2 linked regions of the Homo sapiens genome follow. The protein of the gene in region 1 purifies or fractionates together with the protein of each later gene. This does not show direct contact. Each region holds a gene or a part of one and is shown in the gene's direction. Other genes may lie near its edges.

What was found.
Region 2: the proteins of ZNRF2 (region 1) and ANKRD28 purify together in Homo sapiens (affinity purification with western blotting; 2 studies listed by BioGRID and IntAct, with this or other methods). This does not show direct contact.

Annotation. Positions count from the first base shown.
Region 1 is NC_000007.14:30,278,232-30,289,423, forward strand, and holds the start of ZNRF2 (E3 ubiquitin-protein ligase ZNRF2), read left to right. Parts: upstream 1-6,365; 5' UTR 6,366-7,126; coding exon 7,127-7,595; intron 7,596-7,828; exon of another isoform or gene 7,829-7,854; intron 7,855-10,526; exon of another isoform or gene 10,527-10,601; intron 10,602-11,192. UniProt on the Homo sapiens protein: E3 ubiquitin-protein ligase that plays a role in the establishment and maintenance of neuronal transmission and plasticity. Ubiquitinates the Na(+)/K(+) ATPase alpha-1 subunit/ATP1A1 and thereby influences its endocytosis and/or degradation.
Region 2 is NC_000003.12:15,667,264-15,678,571, reverse strand, and holds part of ANKRD28 (serine/threonine-protein phosphatase 6 regulatory ankyrin repeat subunit A), read left to right. Parts: intron 1-217; coding exon 218-363; intron 364-944; coding exon of another isoform or gene 945-958; exon of another isoform or gene 959-1,009; coding exon 1,010-1,092; intron 1,093-1,515; coding exon 1,516-1,598; coding exon of another isoform or gene 1,599-1,602; intron 1,603-2,582; coding exon 2,583-2,674; intron 2,675-5,381; coding exon of another isoform or gene 5,382-5,491; exon of another isoform or gene 5,492-6,938; coding exon of another isoform or gene 6,939-6,962; exon of another isoform or gene 6,963-7,212; intron 7,213-8,015; coding exon 8,016-8,302; 3' UTR 8,303-10,330; coding exon of another isoform or gene 10,331-10,543; 3' UTR 10,544-11,308. UniProt on the Homo sapiens protein: Regulatory subunit of protein phosphatase 6 (PP6) that may be involved in the recognition of phosphoprotein substrates. Involved in the PP6-mediated dephosphorylation of NFKBIE opposing its degradation in response to TNF-alpha.

The DNA of each region.
Region 1 (11,192 bases):
TCCTTCTTGGTCACGTAGGACATCCAATTGGCCTCCAAGACCTGCGGTGGCTGCTCTCTCAAGAGTTTTAGAATCTGCCCTACCACCACTCTAATTCAGGTTCTCTTCACTTCTTGCCTGGATGACTACGTTAGCCTCTGGACTAGTCTTCCACTTCACTGTGCGTTCCTCCCTCCCATCAATCCATTCTCCAAAATACTGCTGGAGTTGTCTTTCCATACTGTAAATGCGATCCTGCTACTTCCCTGTTTGGGAAAGTGGTTCCCTTTTGCTTTCTGGATGAATTCCAACTTCTTAGCTCAGCACACCAGGCCGGTTACATGCAGCTTTCCAGCCTATTCTCTCACCCTCTCACCTGTTACTCTTCATTCCAGCTATAATTAACTGCTTGAAGTTCTTCAGCTGCTCAAAGCTCTCCCTTGCTTCATGCTCCCTCAGCCTGGAATGCCTATGGGTGCTGAAGCCAGAAGTCTCTCAAGACTCAGCCCAGCGTCCCTTCTCAGACTACATCTTTGTCCTTCACCAATCCCCATCCCTTCAGTCAGCTCCAGTATGCCTTTACCACATGGTACTCTGACCATCTCTTCATTTCTATCTAAGTCCCTTGATTAGAAGCTATAAGGTTTTTGAAGCTATATGGTGTTTAGTTGGTTTAACTTTACATCCCCAGATGCTCAGCTACTCTGTTTAAAGAATGAAAATATCTCCATTGGGGGTCCTAAGTTATTCCGATGTTTCCCTGCACCAGGTATGACCCAGCTCAGGGCTATGTTCCAAAACCTACCCAGTTTAGACTTGTATCCCTAGAGTTCAGCCAGAGCCCAGCTAACTTCTGGGAAACAGAGGGTGGGGTAAATTGACCAGGAGCTCTTGTTGCTCTATCTTCTCATGGTGGAAGAAAGGCAGTTCTGCAACTATGACCTTACCCTTTCCAACCTGGCCTAACTTGGGGGCGTAGATCATTCAATAGCAACTCAAAGGGAATTGGCCCCCTAATGCACAAACTTGCCCTGGCTGAACAGTGTAGAAGGCAGCCAACTTCACACACAAACTTAATGTGGTGACGACAGTCTGTTAAGTTGGTAGTAATTCCGGACATGCATTAATCACTGCTGCCTGTCCTTAGCGAGCCATAGCTGTTACTCAAAGTCTCTTGCATATAGATTGTCCTTGAGCTCTCTATAAGCAGGCACTCTGGAGAGTTAAAAATAAAGCAGAAATAGAGTTCCTGTACTTGGGAGGCTTAAACAATCTAGTCCTAAAATGTAGGGCTTGCCTTTACGGGGGCTTTTGACTAACTTTGAGGGAGGAAGTGGTAAGGGAAAATGTCTTATAATACGTTTTAATCATTCATGTACAACAGTCATTCACGTACAGTATTCATGATTTAAGCAAGTGACAGGAGGCAGTTTGGAGGGTGCATCTGCACTGGAGGAGGGACCACATGCATTATGTAGCAGAGGGCTATTTTTTCTCCAAGCTAGTCTTCACTTCCGTAGGCTGGGAAAATCCCCTTGGTACCGACCCCATGATACATTTTTCCACTAAATTTTATGTCTTTTCAACAGTATGTCCCCAGTAAAGATCTTGGATTCCTTTCAAAACACTATGTATGGAATCTGAGAGTTTCCTTTATAATGGAGTAAAAGCATCATGGGTTGTGGTTGGTTGGTATTAAGGGTTTTTAAATTAGGGCTCTTACAGATAAAAAAAAAAACAACGTTTGAAAGCCCAAGTGAATTAATTGAGAATAGAACACAATATAAATATTTAAGCTCTTAGTAATACTACATACCATTTTGGCAAGCAAAAATTATTTTTATTAGCAGGTGCTGACATTATATCTCAAGCTGTTTTTAGAAAGGAAAATGATTCTGGAATCTATGTTAAACATAGCCATAGGGCTCCAGTCATTGATTAATTAACATGAAATACTTTTGTGACACATTTAAGTCTATTTAGGACCCAAAGACTCTTTAGTCAAAGTGTTAACTACCCTGTGGAATCAAAAGAAAAAAAATGTTTAAGAGTTTAAATATTGGAGATTTCAAATAGGTAGTCTCTGATATCTTAATGATAATTTCCTTTCAAATTTCATCTATCTAGCTATCTATGAGTATATGTACACACACACACACACACACACACACACACACACACATCCATCCATCCCATGGTGGAAAGATATAGATGTGTCATGACATATCATACTATCATCATTATTATAGCAGTGATGTAAATACTTATTAGTAAACTACTACTAACGAATTATTACCAATACATCCTTATGCATCAATAATGTATTAAAATTTCACAAAATGGTAAAATCAATTTCATTGAGTATTAGTATATATTAAACTGTACAATGTCACAACATGCTAGAGATGATATGGAAATTATTACAATCTGCTAGGGATAATAACATTGAGATTAAAATTTGTTTCTCTATTAACACATTTGAAAGTACTCTCAAATAGAGAATGAATCTTTTGAGAATCATAGCCACTCTGTGAGACTGGTATTGCTATATGATCATCCATGTTTTACAGAAGGAACAGGTTTAGCCAGGTTAAGTGGCTTGCCCTAAATCCCACAGCCAGTGTCAGACAAAGCCAGGGCCTAACCCCAGCTTGAGCTCAACCACTTCACGGCATGTACTTTTAATCCTGTCATGATTGGCTCTTGTCTTTTGCTTCTCATTAAAAAACTAATACAAGTACAGGGGAGGGAGGATAAAAATTTGTTAAAGACATTACATAAACTTTTGATGTTTTCTGAACAATTACCCAACAATGTGACTCCTAAATACTACAAACTAAGATTTTGAATTTAAGATGTAAGTTTCTAATCACCACTAAGATCTTGGACAGTGTATGTAGGATGTATTAACACATATGTAGGATGTATTAAGATTCATTTTAATGTTTAGATGGTCCATTTGTTTCTTTAAAAAGCAAAATAATAGGAAAATAGGCCTATTTAAAAATAGGCAATTATACATATAGTCCTATTTTGGTAGAGATGAGGTAGTGTATGAACACTTACTTGAAAAAAAAAAAAAGCAAAGCCATAACCATCTCTTAAATCCTATAACAAGGGGAAAAGTGGGATGGCAAAACCTTAGCAAAATGTGTAGGGCTACTGCTGGCTGCAGGACAGCCCTGTAGAGAGGCTGTGGTCCCCGACCAAGAGGACTAATGGGTGTCACTATGCAAATTTGCTGTCCCACACATCAAAGGTCTGATCCAGCAGAGTTTTAAAAGAGAAACCAAGAGAGGAAAGAGGAATGCAAAGGAGAGTAAGGGAACACAAAGGGAAGAGGCTTGCCCCAACTAAACTTCAAACTAGACAACAACAAACTGATTGGTCAGGCATTTTTATTGAAAGCCCAGAAGTAGCTTACCTGTTCCAGTGTGAGTTTGTGGACAATAATTTTGTCAATGTGAAGTGCTTTAACAATACATTCAGACTAATTTTGCACCCCCAAAGCCTTTGGTCAAAATATCATTGAACTGCATCAGGAGGAATATAGTGTATTTTAAAACCTTCAAATTTGAAAAATTTTAAAGAGCTGGGGCTCTGGTCTCTTGATAAGTGGTGAAGGCATTAAAACAACAGTTCTGATTGTAGAGGAAAGCGTCATTTAGACCAGTGCTTCTCCAAACAAGAGTCCGAAGTCTGATGGCAGCAACATCACTGGGCAGCTTGTTAGGATGCAAATTCTCCAGGCCCAACCCTGAGCTATGGAATGAGAATCATTGAGGGTGGGGCCCAACAGCCTGTTTTAACAAGGTTTTCCTGTAATCCTTGTGTGTGCTAAAGTTTGCAAAGCACTGATTTAGACTACTGTTTATCAAAGTGCAGATTACATCCCCATAGGGGGGTGTAAAATCAATCCAATAAGCAGTGACCAGCATTTTACAAAAGTGAAGTCAAATAGAAAGCAGAGTGCATTTCAGGTAGCATGGGTATTATCTCAAAAACCCGTTGCAGTTCTACATGTGTGTATACCTGTGTGTACTCATTTGGATGAAGCAGCACTTTTAATTTTTGAAGAACTGGTAGGTATACTAAAGACGTGATGGCCAGGCATGGTGGCTCACGCCTGTAATCCCAGCATTTTGGGAAGCCGAGGCGGGTGGATCACAAGTTCTGGAGTTAGAGACCATCCTGGCCAACATGGTGAAACCCTGTCTCTACTAAAAGTACGAAAAAATGAGCTGGGCATGGTGGCACGTGCCTGTAACCCAGCTACTCTGGAGGCTGAGGCAGGAGAATTGCTTGAACCTGGGAGGCAGAGGTTGCAGTGAGCCCAGATCGCACCACTGCACTCCAGCCTGGTGACAGAGCGAGACTCTGTCTCAAATAAATAAATAAATAAATAAGCGACACATTTTCAACGAAGTCAGAACTGTTTGGTTGACAATAACACACATTGACAGCTTCATGCTGGTGACTGGAGAGAGATGAGAGGGGTGAGGAGAGAGGAAAGAAGGCCAAGGAAAGAACATAGAAGGCCAGCATTTTATCTCCAGAACCTTCGTGGGGAAAGAAACAAGGCTCACCAGAGAGGAGGTGGAAGGGGCACCCACCACAAGCGAAATGTCAAGGAGAATAAGAACATGATAAGTTAATGAGTGACATTCAAGAAAGAATCGTTTTAGTACAACTGGTGAGGATACATGTATTCACTCACTCATTCATTCATTCATTCACAAAACATTTATTGCACCATGGCAAGACCAGACACTGTGTTAAACACTGGAGGTACAGACATGAAGTTTATCATGGAGCCAATTGAGTAGTGACAAGCAAGATATCTAATAATAATAATAACATGATCAGAGCTATGAAGGAGGTATTGTACAGCACTGAGTGGGAACACTGAAGTCAGTCTGTGATGCTGGGATGGGGGAGGAGGTGGCAGGAAACATCTATAAGGAGAGGGCACTTAACCAAAATGATGACCATATCTTAACATGATACTGCATATAAAGCACTGGGTACCTTTGTTTTTCCATGTATATATGTGTGTTTGTGTACACAGATACACGTCTTTATATGTATACATATATTCTCCATTTGTTTAAAAACTTGATTCCCATACCCTAAGAGTGATGAAAATCATTACATAAATGACTTATTGCAAATAGTGAAAAGATGACAAAGTATTTCTGTAGTTTTATAAAACACCACTTGCTATTATTATTTTCAAGTAGAGACTAGACATTTTCATAATGGGAGTCTCAGAGCAGGCTGTTCCCTGGGTATCCAGACCCTGCTCTGCCGTGAAGAGACCACACCAACACTGAGGAAGGCACTGAGGAGAATTTTATTACATTTTAGAGAAGTTATAGGATTTTAAAGAGGCAGGTGCCCTAGGATTTAACACAAACAGTTCAGGTAAGAAACCTAAAGTCGGCCTGGTGCGGTACGTCACGCCTGTAATCCCAGCACTTTGGAAGGCCGAGGCAGGTGGATCACTTGAGGACAGGAGTTCAAGACTAGCCTGGCCAACATGGTGAAAGACCGTCTCTACTAAAAATACAAAAATTAGCCAGGCGTGGTGGCACGTGCCTGTAATCCCAGCTACTCTGGAGGATGAGGCAGGAGAATCGCTCGAACTCGGGAGGCGGAGGTTGCAGTGAGCCGAGATCACACCATTGCACTCCAGCCTGGGTGACTGAGCGAGACTCCGTCTCAAAAACAAAAACAAAAATAAACCTAAAGTCCAAAAAAGTAAAATAATTTGCTCACTACAGATAATTTAGTTTGGTGTTGGGCCTAGATTCTAGGTTTTGTGAGTCAGGTGCAGCGTTCCTGGCACCACAGTATTTGCCCTACCACAGAGGGTCAACCTGGATTATCCCGAGTTCTTCCAACTCTGCGCTTCCTCCCAGGTTGGTGTTTCATGAGTAAGTCTGAGATCAAGCTGGCTTTTGAGCTTCTGTTTTTTTTTTTAATCAGTGTGTAACACCAACACCCACCGAAACCAAACGGCTCTGGGCAGAGGACACAGCCATTCACGCCCCCTGCCAGGAAAAGCTGCAGCTGACACAGGCTCCTACAGCGTCGGCGGGCCACGTGCGGGAGGAGGGGCCGCCTTCTGGTTGGCGCCCGGTGTCCGTTCCTCCTATCGGCGTAGGCCCCGCGAGGAAGACAAGGGCGCGCCCTGGCTGGGAGGGCGTGGCCAGAGACCTGTCCATCACCGAGTCCACGAGTGGCAGCACCTACCACACCGCAGTACCTTGGCGAGGCGGAGCAGGGGCAGGCAGGTCGCGGAAGGGGGAGGCGGAGCAAGGCCGGCGGGAGCCAATCGGCCTGGCGGCACGAGGGGGCGGGGGCGGGGTCAACGCGCGCGACCCAAACACACGGGCCGGGCGCACCCTGCAGCCGCGCCGCTCCGCGGCCTTCCGGCGCGGGGCCGGGGAACCTCCTCCCCATCTGCGCACCCCCCGCCTTCGCGGCCCAGATCCTCCCGCCAGCCCGGCCCCTCCTTCGCAGGGGGAGCGAGGCGACGGTTGCCGGGAAGCGCGCGCCACCTCTCCCTCCCATTTTTCGTTCTCCCCTCGCGCGCCACCCGTTTTTCCTCTTTCTCCGTTAATAACAGCTGGGTGGCTGGGGGAGGAGGGAAGGTGGCCCCGGCGGAGTCTGGGCGGGCGCCTCCCACTCAGCCGCCAGCCGCCGTGGGAGCCGGAGGATGGCGGCGGTAGCAGCGGCCGCCCGAGAGGAGGCGGTGCCGAGATCGGGGGCGCCGAGCGCGGCAGCAGAGAGCGGTAGCGGCCCGTCGTGGCGCACCAGAACCGAAACCAGCGGCAGCCGCACGGCCACTTGAGCCGCCCCTTCCTGCTGGAGCCAGCGAGGGGTGCCTGCAGCCGGGACCCCTTCCTCTCCGCGTCTCCTCGTCTCCCGCGCCCGCGTCAGGCCGTCGGCCTCGCCCGCCGCCCCAAGAAGAGCGCGCCGGGCGCCGACTGCCCCTCTGGACGCCGGGCGGCGGCCCTGGACGTGCGGGGGCCTCTCTGGGCCGGCCGCGGCGCCTGGGCCCTGCCCTCTAGCTCCCGCGCTCGCTCCCGCCCTCCCGGCTCTCGGGGCGCAGCGCGCGGGCCCGGCCCGGGGCAGGGCGGACATGGGCGCCAAACAGAGCGGCCCGGCCGCCGCTAACGGCCGCACGCGCGCGTACTCGGGCTCGGATCTACCTTCCAGTAGCAGCGGAGGCGCCAATGGGACCGCGGGCGGCGGCGGGGGCGCTCGGGCCGCCGCCGCGGGGAGGTTCCCGGCTCAGGTGCCCAGCGCGCACCAGCCCAGCGCCTCCGGCGGCGCCGCGGCGGCCGCGGCGGCCCCGGCAGCCCCGGCGGCCCCGCGCAGCCGCTCCCTCGGCGGGGCCGTGGGGAGCGTGGCGTCGGGGGCCCGCGCGGCGCAGTCCCCCTTCAGCATCCCGAACAGCAGCAGCGGCCCGTACGGCTCGCAGGACTCGGTGCACAGCAGCCCTGAGGACGGCGGCGGCGGCCGGGACCGGCCGGTGGGCGGGAGCCCCGGCGGGCCGCGCCTGGTGATCGGCTCCTTACCAGCTCACCTCTCGCCGCACATGTTTGGAGGTACGGACCCCTCTCCGCGCACCCGCGCTCGGTCCTCCCGCGGCTGCACGTGGGCCGTGGCCGCCGGCTATTTTTACCCTTCTCCTTTTCTCCTTCTGCCGGGGCGCCGGGGGCTGCCTCCCGGACCAGCCCGCGTCGGTCTCCATCCTGGAAGAAACCCGGCGCTTAACACCGGCGGTGCCGCTACCGCATAGACGCGTGGTTTTGTTTTTAAACATCCTGAGCACCCTCACCTCAGCGGCTGCCCAGTAGAGAAAGTCTATTTTCCAGTGAGATGACTGGAGCAAATGTTGTTTTACAACAAACCGACGAAACAGCCCTTGTGGTTGTGGTTTTTAGTACCAGGAAGTCAGGAGGAGACCAGTTGCTAAATGTAGTTCTATCTGGGGACTCGAGTGGGGAACAGTTTTTAAAGGCCAAAAGTCAAAGCGTCTCAAATGAACACTGAGTTACCATGTTTGGACCGACTTTTAGTATAAAGCTGTAATCCTGAAATCTGTGTCAGTAGTCCCAGTTACTATGTCATTTTAATTGGATGAATGCGTTAATGAAAAGTTTGTTTTTAAACCTCACTAAACTGCTACTTAAGATCACAGTTAATGTGAGTCCTGCTTAATTTGGAAAGCATTTAAAAAATGGAAAAGTTTCTTAAGGAAGTAAAAATTTTGCACATCTGTCTTCAAGGTACAATAATTGGCTAGGTTCTTTTGAAGAGCAGTGTTGACTAGAGTTAAGGAAAAGTCAGTTGTGAAAAATGGACATTTTTAATAGCAAAGTGATGTACTTTACTACAGAAACAGGAGGAAGTGTGCGTTGTCCTGGGGAAAATGAATCCTACTTCTTCAGTTATGTTTTATGCTGATCTACTTTATTGCAAAACGCTAATAGTAAATGAATCAAGACCACCTCCCCTCTCCCCTTTATGAAAATAAATAGAAGTATAGAAGATAAGCATTCCCATTTCATCGCATTATGTATCTGGTATTAGAAAAATTAGCAACTGAGCACAGATGAGCAGCGAAAACACGATCCCCTACATTTTTGTGCCGCTTTTACTTATATATTTGTAAACGTAGGAACTTTGGAGACTTAGTAAAGTGGAATACGTAGTAATTTATCCGTTCTCATGTTCTGTACTATCAGCACACACGCCAGCATAAATTAAAAACAGGAATGTCATGTTTCATTTTTCCCATTTTTTTAGTAACGCTTTGCAAATTCAATTGGAACGACGCTTGACTTTTAATTAGCTACCTTGTTTTAAAGTAATTTTTGCTTCTTAAAAATATTCATCCCTCTTAAAATTGGGCTATTTTTAAAAGTCATTTGCTTTTGATTTTGAGTAAAAGAACTCTACTGGTGTCCTTAAAGTGATTTGATCACAACTAACCTAACAGTTGAAGTTGCTGTAGTCCGCACTGAAGAATATAAAAGGCAGTTTCTGAGAATTGGTGATTAGTGCGAGAATGAAGGGCAAACTGGTTTTTAATGTTTATCATTATCTTTTTAAAGTGAAAATTTGCATTTAGCAATTATTAGAAGATGAATATTTAAGTTTGCTAAAGAAGGGTGAATAGGAAAAGCCTTGTCAAGTTAATAGTTAATATTTATTTAATATGCTGATTTCTAAAAATTCATTTTCTAAGAGCTGATAATTCCCTTTGAGAAACATTATAGTTCTGTGGGTTTATTTTGTTAAGTAAATGCATTCTATTCAGAGCAAGAGACAGTTGAGCCCCATGCTATTCCTAGTAAGTAAAAATACCTAGTTGCTTAAAGTTGGAGATAAAGCATTTATCTTTTTTCTTATCTAAGTTCTAGATTTGTGCACTCATTATAGTTCTTTTAGTGCTGTTGGGGTTGGGTGACTGGGGCCTAGTAGTACAGTGACACTTTCTGAGGAACTTACAGCAGCCTTTCTCACCCGGCTTTCTGGAGACAATTGTGCCGTAGTGTGCAATGAATTTTAACTTTTAGCTCCAGTGCATTTAGAACGGTTTTAGTTATGTATCATTCTTGGAACAATTGAGAAAAGTCACTGAAATAATTTCCTGTGTTTGGTGATTCAGATGAGGAACCTCAGTTGAGAATTGCTGGAAAGACATCAGAGAAATTACCTGTTCTTATTATATGACAGGATCAGATGAAAGTGCCACATCCTGAAATCTCTGTTGAGGCAGGGAGATGGAATACATTTACGTAAAAACCCATCTTAGTGGCATTGCCTTACTGAGATTTTTACCTATATTTTAGTGGACGGGTTATTAGGAAAACAATAGAAGCATGTTTCTCATCATCTTGAGATTTAGGGAGCTAAATGAAGAATCTTATAATTAAAAAAGACTTGACTAGTTCACATTTACTTAACTTTTTAGTATCTATTATAACATTATTGTGTTTATTCAGTTACAAATTGTATAAATGGTTATATACAAATAACTGCATCTGAAAATTGATAAAAGGATTATTTCAGAATTAGTGGAAAGTTCGTATTGTTTTTTGTAAAACTGTTGTTTTAATTGTTGTTTATATTATTAACGTCTCCTAATAAGAAAATGTGGTACTAATAAGATTCAAAATTATTCTCTTGTGAGCTCTCATGTAATTTATAGAAAATGAAAAACAGTCCCCCCCTTTTATTTTTAACACTTAAGAGTCTAGCAAGTGGAATTGTTAGTAGTTCTCTCATAATGAATTGCCACATTGAACGAGGAAGTTTTCTGTGTTGGTTTTATGTTTTGATGTCATTTGGACATCTGTTTTGGCTATATACACTCTTATTCTCTCTAGAGAACTGGAAGAAAAATGCCTAATCCAGATATTTCAGTGTGTAGAAATTTCCTAGAATTGAGTTGCCAGACATCAGAATGTGATTATATTTATATAGGAGTTTTTAGGTGAAGTAAATCTTGTCCTTATTATTCTTTTCAGACTGAGGAGTGTTAAAGTGAACAGACGCTTTCTTGACTACTGCTAGTGTCGTCCATCACCTTTGTTTTAAAACAGGTCTTAAGGGTATTTCCTAATATTTAAAAATGTTGATGGTATTTTAGGGTTTGTTTGGCTTTAATTTACGTCTACGTTTTTTTTTCCACTGTCAAGTAGCTGTTGTTCATAAGAGCATAATATGAGTGGTCAAATAGCCTTTAATGATGCAGCAAGGATGGGGTAGATGAATTGGGCTATAGAAATATACCAATACATGGAGATTATTTCCAGAGAAATCGTGTGGACTTCTATAATGTATCCTTGAGTCCAGAAGTGAAAATGTAAAATGACTTAATCTAAGACAACCAGTGGTGCTGGGTTGCTTTTGGCCTCCTGATTTTCTTGAGCTTTTTTGGGTGTGGCTTGCTCATGAGTATTTCAGTAGTCTGATTGTAACTCAGGTGCCTTGCTACTTGTGAAACATGTTTTCTTATATTGAAGGAGTGTGGGTTATCTCTTAAAACTGAATATGTTGAATAAGACCTGTATTTCTAGGAAGATTTCTCTTAATTTTTAAGGCAGATGTGAAGTTTTATGGTGTTAGGTTATCTTCATCAATTAACCATTATGGAATCGGTCTCAGTTATCACTTCTTACCAATATCAAGTG
Region 2 (11,308 bases), on another chromosome or scaffold:
GTTCTAGTTTAATTAAAGCCTTCTGTATTATTGAAAGTACAAATTTCTATGAGAGAAATTAGTAAGCTCCATTGAGCCTATTTGTTTGTGTACAGGCAGTGCTTTTGTAGCCTAATATGTAAACCCTTAAAAACAGCATGTCACAAATTAAAGAATATTTTTCCAGCATATATAACATTCAAATTTAGTCATATATTTCAATTTTTCTTTATCACAGAACTCCTCTCCATGCAGCCGCCTTCACAGACCATGTAGAGTGTTTACAGCTGCTGCTCAGCCATAATGCTCAAGTCAATTCTGTGGACTCTACAGGGAAAACACCTCTTATGATGGCTGCAGAAAATGGACAAACAAATACAGTTGGTAAAGAAACTTCTTTAAAATTGTATTTTCCTAAGTATGTGTATCACTTATGTATAACTTAGATCCCAAGACTTCTGACTTCAACTAGTTATCTTACCACTCCTAAGACTTAAAACCTTTTACCTGTTTGCAATCCACATTTTCATTTAGGGATACAATGTTTTAGTTTGCCCTGACTATTGAGGAGTCTACTTTACCATGGCCTTATAACATAGTGGTTAAGAACACTGGCTGTGGAGTTGGATTGCCTGAATGTGAGTCCTAGATCTTTCAGCTAAATGACCTTATGCCTCAGTTTTCTCATTTATAAAATGAGAAAAATAACAGTATCTACTTGGTGTGTTGTTGTGAGGGTTAAATAAATTACTTTAAATCCAGAGCATATAAAACAGTATTTAAAATTTAGTGCACAGTCACAAAATAAATGTTAATTGCCATTGTTAGAGTGTGTGACTTATACAACAATATAATTGTCTCATACAATTATATGAAGATATATATGTTATATATTACAATATTTTTCTTGTACTTAAGTTTTTGTGAGAGGGACTTTTTTGCTTTGTATCTTCATTTCTCTACAGTGAGTTATTGGTAATCTAAGAAACATGTTCATAAACATAAGAATTGATGCACTTTTTCCTCCCAGAGATGCTGGTTAGCAGTGCTAGTGCAGAACTGACTTTACAAGATAACAGTAAAAATACTGCCCTCCATTTGGCTTGTAGCAAGGTATGTATACATCTTAAGAATATGTTTCCATTGTTAATATTAACAGTGACCTTAAAAGTTTTTTGACTTCACTAAAATGAACAACTCAGGACCAAACCTCTCTAATGATCACTGGTATTAGATTTCTTGAACAAAATTGACTTATAAGGCACCATGGCGTATCAAAGTCTCCAGTAAGCCAAATAAGTTTTGGAACACAAGTCTAAGCATAATTATCCTCTTTCCTTAATCTTAATTTTGTCCTCTTCTCCTACCCTCACTCCCAAGATGTGTTTGGGCAAATATTAAGATATTAGCCAGGAAAATTCATGGTATATGTATGGTGTTGTACATAATATATGGACTAGGATTGCAGATTGTTGGGTGTATAAATGTATCTTTAATGGTGCTCAAGTTTTTATAACTTATCTGCCACAATTATAGGGTCATGAAACTAGTGCCTTGTTAATACTGGAAAAGATAACAGATAGAAACCTCATCAATGCAACCAACGCAGCCTTGCAAACGTGAGTACTGTCAGTATCTAGTATAAACTTTGTGACCTATAATTATAAAAATGATAAATGGATTTTTTTAAACATGTGACTATTGGAATAGGTTTCATTAGTCATAGAAGCAATTTTAATAGTTTTACAACTGTCAAAACTCATTTCTAAAATGATCACAACTAAAAGCCATATTATTTAAAATGCTTTTGAACTGAAATTTTATTATAACATTGACAATAATGTATTTTTTTCCTTAATCCACCTACCTAATTTTCTGAAGGAAAGTAGTACTATTTTGTGTATTCTGTGGAAATCAACTGTAATAATATGTTACTTGAAACTAACAATAAATGAGGTAAGAAGCTTTATGTGTGTCTGTAAGCCAATAAGGTTTCTTAAAGAATCAAAATTTTTAATAATGTGAGCAGCCAACCTCCAGATAGACTGACAGAGATCTTACATCAGTGTCTCTCATTGTCCCTTGCTATTCCATTTTGAGGTTTAGTAAAGATAAAAATCTTAGAATATTGTTGCCCGTTCTGGGATTAGTCAGATCCCTTGAAGGTCCAAAAATTAGTCATGATGCTTGTAAGCTGTTTTCAAAGCCTATTAGAATTTATGCTACTGCAGTTTACAGTTTTTAATGTATAGTCTGTATCTTTACCAGCCTCATTCCTTAACAACGGAGGAATGCAATTTCAATGGTAAAATGTTTTTAAACATTGAAAAGAAAAGTAACAAAAGGATTGGGTGAAGGTAGGGACCTGTCGATGGGACCTATGGCTGAGCTTGATGCCGAGCTACACGTTGACAAGGTGTGACAGTGCACTGCACAGAGGTTCTGCTCTCCCTGCCCCCATCTTTGTTATTAGGACTAGGTTTCTCGAGTTTGTACCTCTTGGTCTTCACAAGTTGACAAAAATGCTCTTTGACAGCCAGGTGTGTATGTGTATGTGCATGCACATGCACATATGTGTACATGTATCATGTTTTTTCCCCTAGACCTCTGCATGTTGCTGCCCGAAATGGGCTAACAATGGTGGTTCAGGAACTTTTGGGAAAAGGAGCAAGTGTGCTTGCAGTAGATGAAAATGGTAAGTTGGTTCTATATTCTCTTCCCTTAACCTAGAGCTTTTATCTTTTGATCCATATTTGAAGAGAAATAAACTTGGATATTTTTTATTGGTCAAAGAGGAGAGCTAAAGTTAATATTGAAGAGTAGTTTGTGGCAAAGGAATAAGGGCAAAAGAAATAGGAAAAGTTATCTAACAGATGTACTTCCGAATTCCTATATCATCTGTTACAGCAAAGTTAGTATTTACTGTTTATACTTGCCACTTTCTGTTGTTTTAGTAGCCAAAGATTTTGTTCTTTCAGCAAATATGTATCAAGATCCTAGTTAAGTACTAATATTCTTATTTAAAGCCAGTGTTTCTACTCATGCACTAGATCCTGTCCCCTTTTGCCTACTTCATAATGTCAGTTTGACAGTTCTCTTTTGTGTCCTGGAGTAACATTTTTCGCTCTCTTCCTGTATTATTCCTCTCAGTATATAAACATTAGTTCCCTCATCCTTAAAAAATAATTTATAAATCTCACTGCTCCTGCCAGCTACTGCCATATTTCTCTGTCCCCTTTTGCAGCAAAACTACTCTCTTGCTGTCCGCAGTTATTCCTCTCATTCTTCCATTCTTTTGTTGTTGTTGTTGTTGTTTGTTTTTGAGACGGAGTCTAGCTCTGTTGCCCAGGCTGGAGTGCAGTGCCATGATCTCGGCTTACTGCAACCTCCGCCTCCTGGGTTCAAGCGATTCTCATGCCTCAGCCTGCCCAGGTAGCTGGGATTACTGACACCTGCCACGACGCCTGGCTAAATTTTGTATTTTTAGTAGAGACGGAGTTTCACCATATTGGCCAGGCTGGTCTCAAACCCCTGACCTCAGGTGATCTGCCTGCCTTGGCCTCCCAAATTGCTGGGATTACAGGTGTGAGCCACAGCGTCCAGCCTCATTCTTCCATTCTCTCTTAATTTCCGTATAGTCAGGCCTTCTCCCCCTCACCCCTACACATAGCAAAACTGTTCCCATCAAAACCACCAATGACTTCTACTGTGTTAACTACTACTTAGCTCTCATTTTACTTGATAGATCAGCTTTTGGCACAACTGATCGTTTCCTTTGATAAATTTTTTTACTCTGCTTTTTGAACCCCACTCTTCCTTGGTTTTCCTTCTACATTACTAGTTATTCCTTCTTAATTTCTTTTACAAAATTTCTCCCTCTTCTTCTAGGACTCAATTCTTCGTTCTTTTTGCTTTCTCTATCTACATTGACTCCCTAGTGCTCTCATCAGTTCCTTTGGTTTTAAATACTACCTATAATGCTGAGGATTCCCAGATTTATATCTCCAGCCCAGACTTCTCACAGTCTCTATATATCCACGTGCCTAATTGACACATCCATGTGGATGTCTGATAAACAGCTTAAACCTAGAATGTGCAGAACTGAACTGTTGATCCTTTCCCACTCCCCTTGCCAGACCTACTCTCCCCACAGCATCATGCTCTCTCCATTGAAGACAATTCTCATTCTTAACAGTGGCTCAGGGCAAAACCCCTAGAGTCATCCTTGATTCCTCTCACTCATACTCAATGTATAGTCCATCAGCATATACTATTGACTCCACCTCTAAAGTAGATCTAAAGTATGCCCACTTTTTTCTTTACTGCTACCAGACTGACCTGGATCCTTTTAAAGTATATGAGAACATGTTACTCTTGAATTTCGGTTCTTCTTCTTTTTTTTTTTTTTTTTTTTTTTTGAAGAGGCAGGGTCTCACTCTGTTGCCCAGACTAGAGTACAGTGGTGAGATCATAGCTGATTGTAACCTTGAACTCCTGGGCTCAAGAGAACCTCTCACCTCAGCCTCCCAAGTAGCTAGCACTATAAGTATGCATCACCAGGCCTAGCTAATTTATTTTTTGTGCTGACAGACTCTCACTATATTGTCCAGGCCGGTCTTGAACTCCTGGCCTCAAGCAATCCCCCCACCTCAGCCTCCCAGAGTGCTCCACCTGGCCCCACTCATAGTTCTTAAAATGACCTTACTAGGCCCTACATGATGTGTCCTCCACCTTGTTACCTTTCTGATATTATTTCCTACTCTTCTCCTTTCTCTACTTCATTCTGCCATGCCAGCCCCTCCATAGCAGGGTTATACATGCATTGTGATCTTCATTCTGGCTGTTTACTCTGCCTGAACACTCTGTCCCCAAACATCCCATGACTAAATTCGTCACCTGTTTCAAATCTTAGCTCCAGTTTCATCTTCTCAATGAAGCATATTCTAACTATTCTTTACTACAACTTGCTAGATACCCCTACCATAGCATTCTCAGTCCTTGTTAACCTGCTCCACTCTTTCCTCTTTTTTTACATAAAGCTTTTAACATATTGTATATAATGTACTTTTTTGTTATGTTGATTTTGTGTCTTCTCCACTAAAGTGAATGTAAGCTCCACAAGAACAGTGAAATCTTTGTCAGTTGCATTCACTGATATATTCTTAGTGTTCTAAATAGTGCCTGAGCAAGTGGAGGCTCAGTGAATATTTGCTGCATGAGTGATTATGCCAAGCACTGTACTAACTTCTGATGATATAGTGTAAAATAAGACATAGTCTACTCCCTTGAATGGAGATAAGAGTGCAAACAGCCTATTAACGATGCACTTAAAATAGTTTAATTGGAATAAGCATAGAATGCTATGAGAGTACTTAAGAGGGTCTTCAAATCCTTTCTTGCAGGATCAGAGAAGGCATCCCAAAAAATGCAACTGCTAAGCCAAAATCCAAAGGATAAGGAGAAAGTGGGGGAGGAACTTTCTAAGCAAAGAGAGTGGCATGTTAAGAGATAAAACTGGCCGGGCATGGTGGCCCATGCCTATGGTCCTAGCACTTTGGGAGGCACAAGGCGAGTGGATCACCTGAGGTCAGGAGTTCGAGACCAGCCCCGCCAACATGGCAAAACCCCGTCTCTACTAAAAATACAAAAATTAGCCAGGTGTGGTGGCATGTGCCTGTAATCCTAGCTACTTGGGAGGCTGAGGCAAGAGAATCGCTTGAACCCAGGAGGCAGAAGTTGCAGTGAGCCGAGATCATGCCAGTGCACTCTAGCCTGGGTGACAGAGCCAGACTTCGTCTCAAAAAATAACCCCCATGCAGAGGAGAGGAGCCTGTTTTTAGTCATATTCTGACTAGAAAACACACCTGAAACAAGCTTCTTTCCCCACTCCCGCTCTCATCCAAGGCATCCTGGCCTATGTAATGGGTTGTTCTGCCTGCCAGCAGCAGGAACAGCAGCAGGCACCTTTAGAAGAACCCTTGAAAGAAGTGTGGGCAGTGAAGCACTCCCCCAGCTACTTTGAACAAATAAAATTTAATTAAAAATACGGACAGCCTTCAGCCACTGCTGCCAAACTTGGAAGGACATCAGTTGTTCTCTTTGACCCTTGACAAAATGGGAACTTTACAAAGGGGGAAAAATTACTTTTTGTGGCTGGGCACAGTGGCTTACTCCTATAATCCCAGCACTTTGGGAGGCAGAGGCGGGAAGATCACTTAAAGCCAGCAGTTTGAGACCAGCCTGGGGAACAAAGCGAGACCCTGTATCTACAAAAAAGTTTAAAAATTAGCCAGGCATGGCATGTGCCTATAGTCAGAGCTAGTCAGGGGGCTGAGGTGGGAGGATCACTTGAGCCCAGAGGTTGAGGGTGCAGTGAGCATGATCATTATACTGCACTCCAGCCTGGGTGACAGAACAAGACCCTGTCTCAAAAAAAAAAAAAAAAATCCTTTTTTTATCAAGGCCAATATAGCATAGATGAAAATATGTGGGAGAACTGGAAGCAACCAGATGCCCAGTAGTTGAAATGTATAACTAAACCATAGTATAATCACACAATGAAATACTGTATAACAATGAAAATGAACCAACTACAGTTACATACAACATTGATAAATTTCATATAATGCTACACAAAAATGCCAGATATGAAATAATACATACTACATGATTCCATTTATATTAAGTTTTTTAAAAACTCTAAACTGTAGGCTGGGTAAGGTGGTTCACATCTGTAATCCCAGCATTTGGGAGGCCGAGGCAGGCAGATCACTTGAGGCCAGGAGTTTGAGACCAGCCTGGCCAACATAGCGAAATCCCATCTCTACTAAAAATATAAAAAATTAGCTGGTCATGGTGGCACACACGTGTAATCCCAGCTACTCAGGAGGCTGAGGCAGGTGAATCACTTGAACCCAGGAGGCAAAGGTTGCAGTGAGCCAAGTTTGCACCACTGAACTTCAGCTTGGGTGACCGAGCAGACTCTGTCTCAAAAAAAAAAAAACAAAAAAAAAACTATAGTGTTTATGACTCCAAGTTGAAAGCAAGGAAATTACTACCCCATAAGTCAGGATAGTAGTTACCATTGTGGAAGAAGAAAGGTGTAACGACTGGGTAGAGGATATATGGAGGCTTCTGGTATGCTGGTAATGTTCTCTTTCTTAATCTGTATGGTGGTTATACAAATGTATGTTATGTGATAAAACTATTAAAGTTCCATATGGTATAATTGAAGCTTGGCATCACACTATTATCACTTCTCTCCCGCTCCGTCCTCAAGACTGAGTCTTGTACCAACTGAGGTACCAAATGTTTCCTCCTTGGTTTGCTGTGTTGACACTTTGTGGTAACTTACGACTAAGGTCAGTTGTCTTCCGCTTAAAAAAAGGGAATATTTACAAAGGAAATATTTGTTTTGATTTAGTAGTTTTTAAAGTTCATCTGCTTAGTTTGTCTACTGTTTTTCTTCAAGAGACTGTGACCCCAAGAGAAAAGTTAAATTGACAACTAAGTGTCATTCATTCAACACATATCTTTTGAGCACCTGCCCTGTGGCTGATTCATGAAGCTGTACACATTTAAGATTTCTTAGCATCAAAAAGTTTCCTTACATAACTACAAATTAAATTTTTTTATTTTTTCTTACCTTGACACTGATATAACTGCAAATTAACAGTAAATCTCTGCCTACCATCCTGAAAGAATATTCACGATATGTGGTGTTTTTCTTATTCTAGCCCAGTTTTTTCTGTGAATTCAGATGGATACGGATAAGTTGTGAGACCTTGGGGAATCATTCTTCTCTGGGCCTGCTTCCTCTTCTGTTGTCTAGTCTAACATCCCCTTCCACCCTAGGTTTCTATGGCTATTCTTTTTCTACTTATTAGAAACTTGCGAATCATGCTGGTTACAGCAATTTATTATAAGCTAAGTAATGTAAAATATGTCTAAAGTTGAAGTACTTTAGGCTTATTTCCTTGTCTTTGGTGAAATACATCTCAGGATGCTTAATTTTTAAATTTTATCTTTAATTCTAGGCTATACCCCAGCTTTGGCCTGTGCTCCCAATAAGGATGTGGCTGATTGCCTGGCTCTCATTTTGGCCACCATGATGCCTGTCTCATCAAGTAGTCCTTTATCATCCTTAACATTCAATGCCATTAACCGTTATACCAACACCTCAAAAACAGTCAGCTTTGAAGCTTTGCCCATCATGAGGAATGAACCTAGCTCCTATTGCAGTTTCAATAACATTGGAGGGGAACAGGAGTACTTATACACTGACGTGGATGAGCTCAACGACTCCGATTCTGAGACCTACTGAGAGGCTGAGGAGGAGGGAGTTCTCACAGTAAAGCTTCAAACTGTGCTTTTTCAGGAAAAAGGCACTTTGATATTCACGTAGAAATTCAACCTAAGAGGAAAGATCCCACAGTGAGCCAATGTTAAGAGATCTGATGGCATTAGGAGGAAGAGTTTTAAAGGCAAGTTTTACAAAAGGAACTTCTAGAATCTTGAAATAGACCTGACTGAGGAAAACACATTGATGTCAGAATTCTTTGTGGAATTGTTTAATTTGGTTTTGCAGTGCCAGGAACAATTGGGGACACTGTGCACTCTAACCTGCTTACACAAGCAACACTATTGTAACAGAAGAAATAAAGACACTAGATTTAAATTTTATCAATAAAATTACAACTAAATTTAAAGGCAATAAAAGTTTGGTACAGTAGGCATTATGTGCACAGCAAATTGCAAAAGGACCAAATAACTGAAAGGTTTTTTTAATAAAATGCCATTTTGTGGAAACTGGAGTAGATTAAATGAAACATTACCTAAACCAAACTGCAATATTTCTGGAAATGAAGCTGAGATTTGGTTTTAAATGTTGAGTTTTTTTGGGTTTTGTTTTTTTTTTAAGAAAACATCTGAAAGCCTTCCAATGCTGTATTAAACCATGAGAGAAAGCAGATGTATTTTTACATTTTTTTCTTTTACAGAACTATTTCAAATTTCCAATTTTTATACTATTAGAATTAAAAACCAGCTGACTGGGTGCAATACGGGTGAAAATACTTGTGACATAGACATTGAGATGGATTGGGGTCAGGCTGTTGCCCTGTTTTGAATGGTTTGGGTTTAAAATAGTACTATTTTTGTTTGAAAATGTAAAGAATTTCCTAGAAAAAAATTCATGAAATCAAAAAGTAGACTATTTCACCCTATTGCAGCTAAGTGGTCCTGGGGCATGGAGTCTTCAACCTCTCTATGAATGGCACACCTTAGTCACTTATGTTACTTTTGTGTCCCCACCATGGGTTGGGGGATTTTTTGTTTATTCTGATCTATGAGTTTTGAAAAAGTGAATAATCAAAAGGAAAATAATTCCTTGTTGTTCATAAATTAAGCATCACTAAAGTCTCTTGAAAGGCATTTCTGTATTGGGCAAGATTTAAAATACTAAAGCCTTAGGTCCTATTCATATTTAAAGTAGCATGTTTGTAACCTGTTACTATTTGGAGAGAGAAGCAGTTGCCTGCCAAATTGAAGACTACCTTTCAAATAGCAAAAGAGAGAGAGAAGGCTGATATTTCGGCTTTTAAATAAAGATTTGTGTGGTTCTGCTTTTACTGTAACTGTCACTTTCCCAGTGAAAATGATTTCATATACATTGAGGGTCTTACAGGTATGGGTAAAGTTCTATAAATTGCAACAAAATGATACCCAATTTCATTTTATCCTTTTTGTATTGTGAAACTGGAAACTTTATGACATTGTAAATTATCAGCTGGTTTTTCTGAATATAAAGTGTGAAAACACAGAACAGTATTTTGATCTATTTGATAATTTTGTGGGTTTTTTGAAGAATTAATGAGCATGTACATAGAAATAGTGACTGCTTGAATACTGTATTTACTTGCACTCTTTCAGTACATCAAGATTCCTGTATATTTTAGAGTATAATAAAACACAGATGTGAGTTGTATTTAATGAATAATGTATTTGTATCTGTGCATATTATCTACAAATCTATAAAGTTTCTAGGGCATTGACTACTAGATTTTAAGCATTTTTTCTAAAATATTTACAGAAATTATAAATCTAATCCCCCATCTTTTCTTTATAATATAAAGAAGTCATAATGAACCCTTCCTAATTATTAGTAGTAGGAAGGTGAATATGCATTTTAATGACAGTGGACTACATTTTCTATTGTACCTTTTGAAAAAAAAAAAAATCAAGCAGATTCTAAAAGTATACATATGTGTGCTTTCTCTTTCCTTTTAGGAATTCTCTTCTGAATTCCCTGAGGGAATTTTCTAGAATCTCAGAATTGAAAGAGACCTGAGGTTCATCCAGTCTCTAACCTCTTAACAAATGCAGGAGTCCCTTCTACAAGGGTGATCTTTCCACCTTGAACACTTCCAAGTGACTCTACCTCACCAAGCAGTCCATTCAGTTGTTGAGCAGCTCTAACTGTTAGAAAGGTCTTCCTTAGATGGAGTTGAAGCCTCCCTCCCGGTAACTTCTGTCTTTGGGCCTGGGTCTGTCCTCCAAGAGAACCCTGAGAATGTTGGAAGGATGAATCTCGCACATTCTGCCATGTCTTCTCTTTTACAGGCTGTTTGACTTCTCTGCTGAAGTGATTTCCAGAAGGACTCATTTGACACACTATTAGATTTACCACATCTAATGAAATCCAAGGTGTAGCTATAAAGTGACAAGCTGTTTTTAATTTATCACATACACCAGAACTTCTATCCTGCATCACTTATATGTAAATGATGCTGTTACCAAAAACATTAAGGTAGTTCTTGCGAATGCCACCCCACTAAGAAAACTATTTCATTACTTTTGTAATCCATCTGTGAGAGTCTGCCCCCCAGCTTAACCACTTCCTTTGGTCTGCACCCAATGAAGGGAAACCCCAAAGTACTGTCTCAAATGGTATTTGAACTACGCCAGTATTGTTGGAATAAGTACATTAATTACTTGAATGAATGAACACAGCACCGTAGAAATTTCCTTTATGGTTACACCTTGTATGTCTAAAGCATTCAGGCCCTGTTCTGTAGTGTTTCTTATCCTCACACAGAGTAGAAAAGCCTGTTTGCTTTATTTAACTTATACATAAAAGATGACATCTGAAATATCTGATGTGTATTATAATACCAGCTTCTGCTCTAGAACTACTTTGGGTGAAATGGTGGTAATAGCAAATGACCTCCTTTAACAAGACACTCATCTCAAACAATGCCATTTAGTTCAGGAGATCTCTAAGTGTAGCTGTAAATTTTGGGGTTAATTTGGCTTATATTGGACCTTTTAA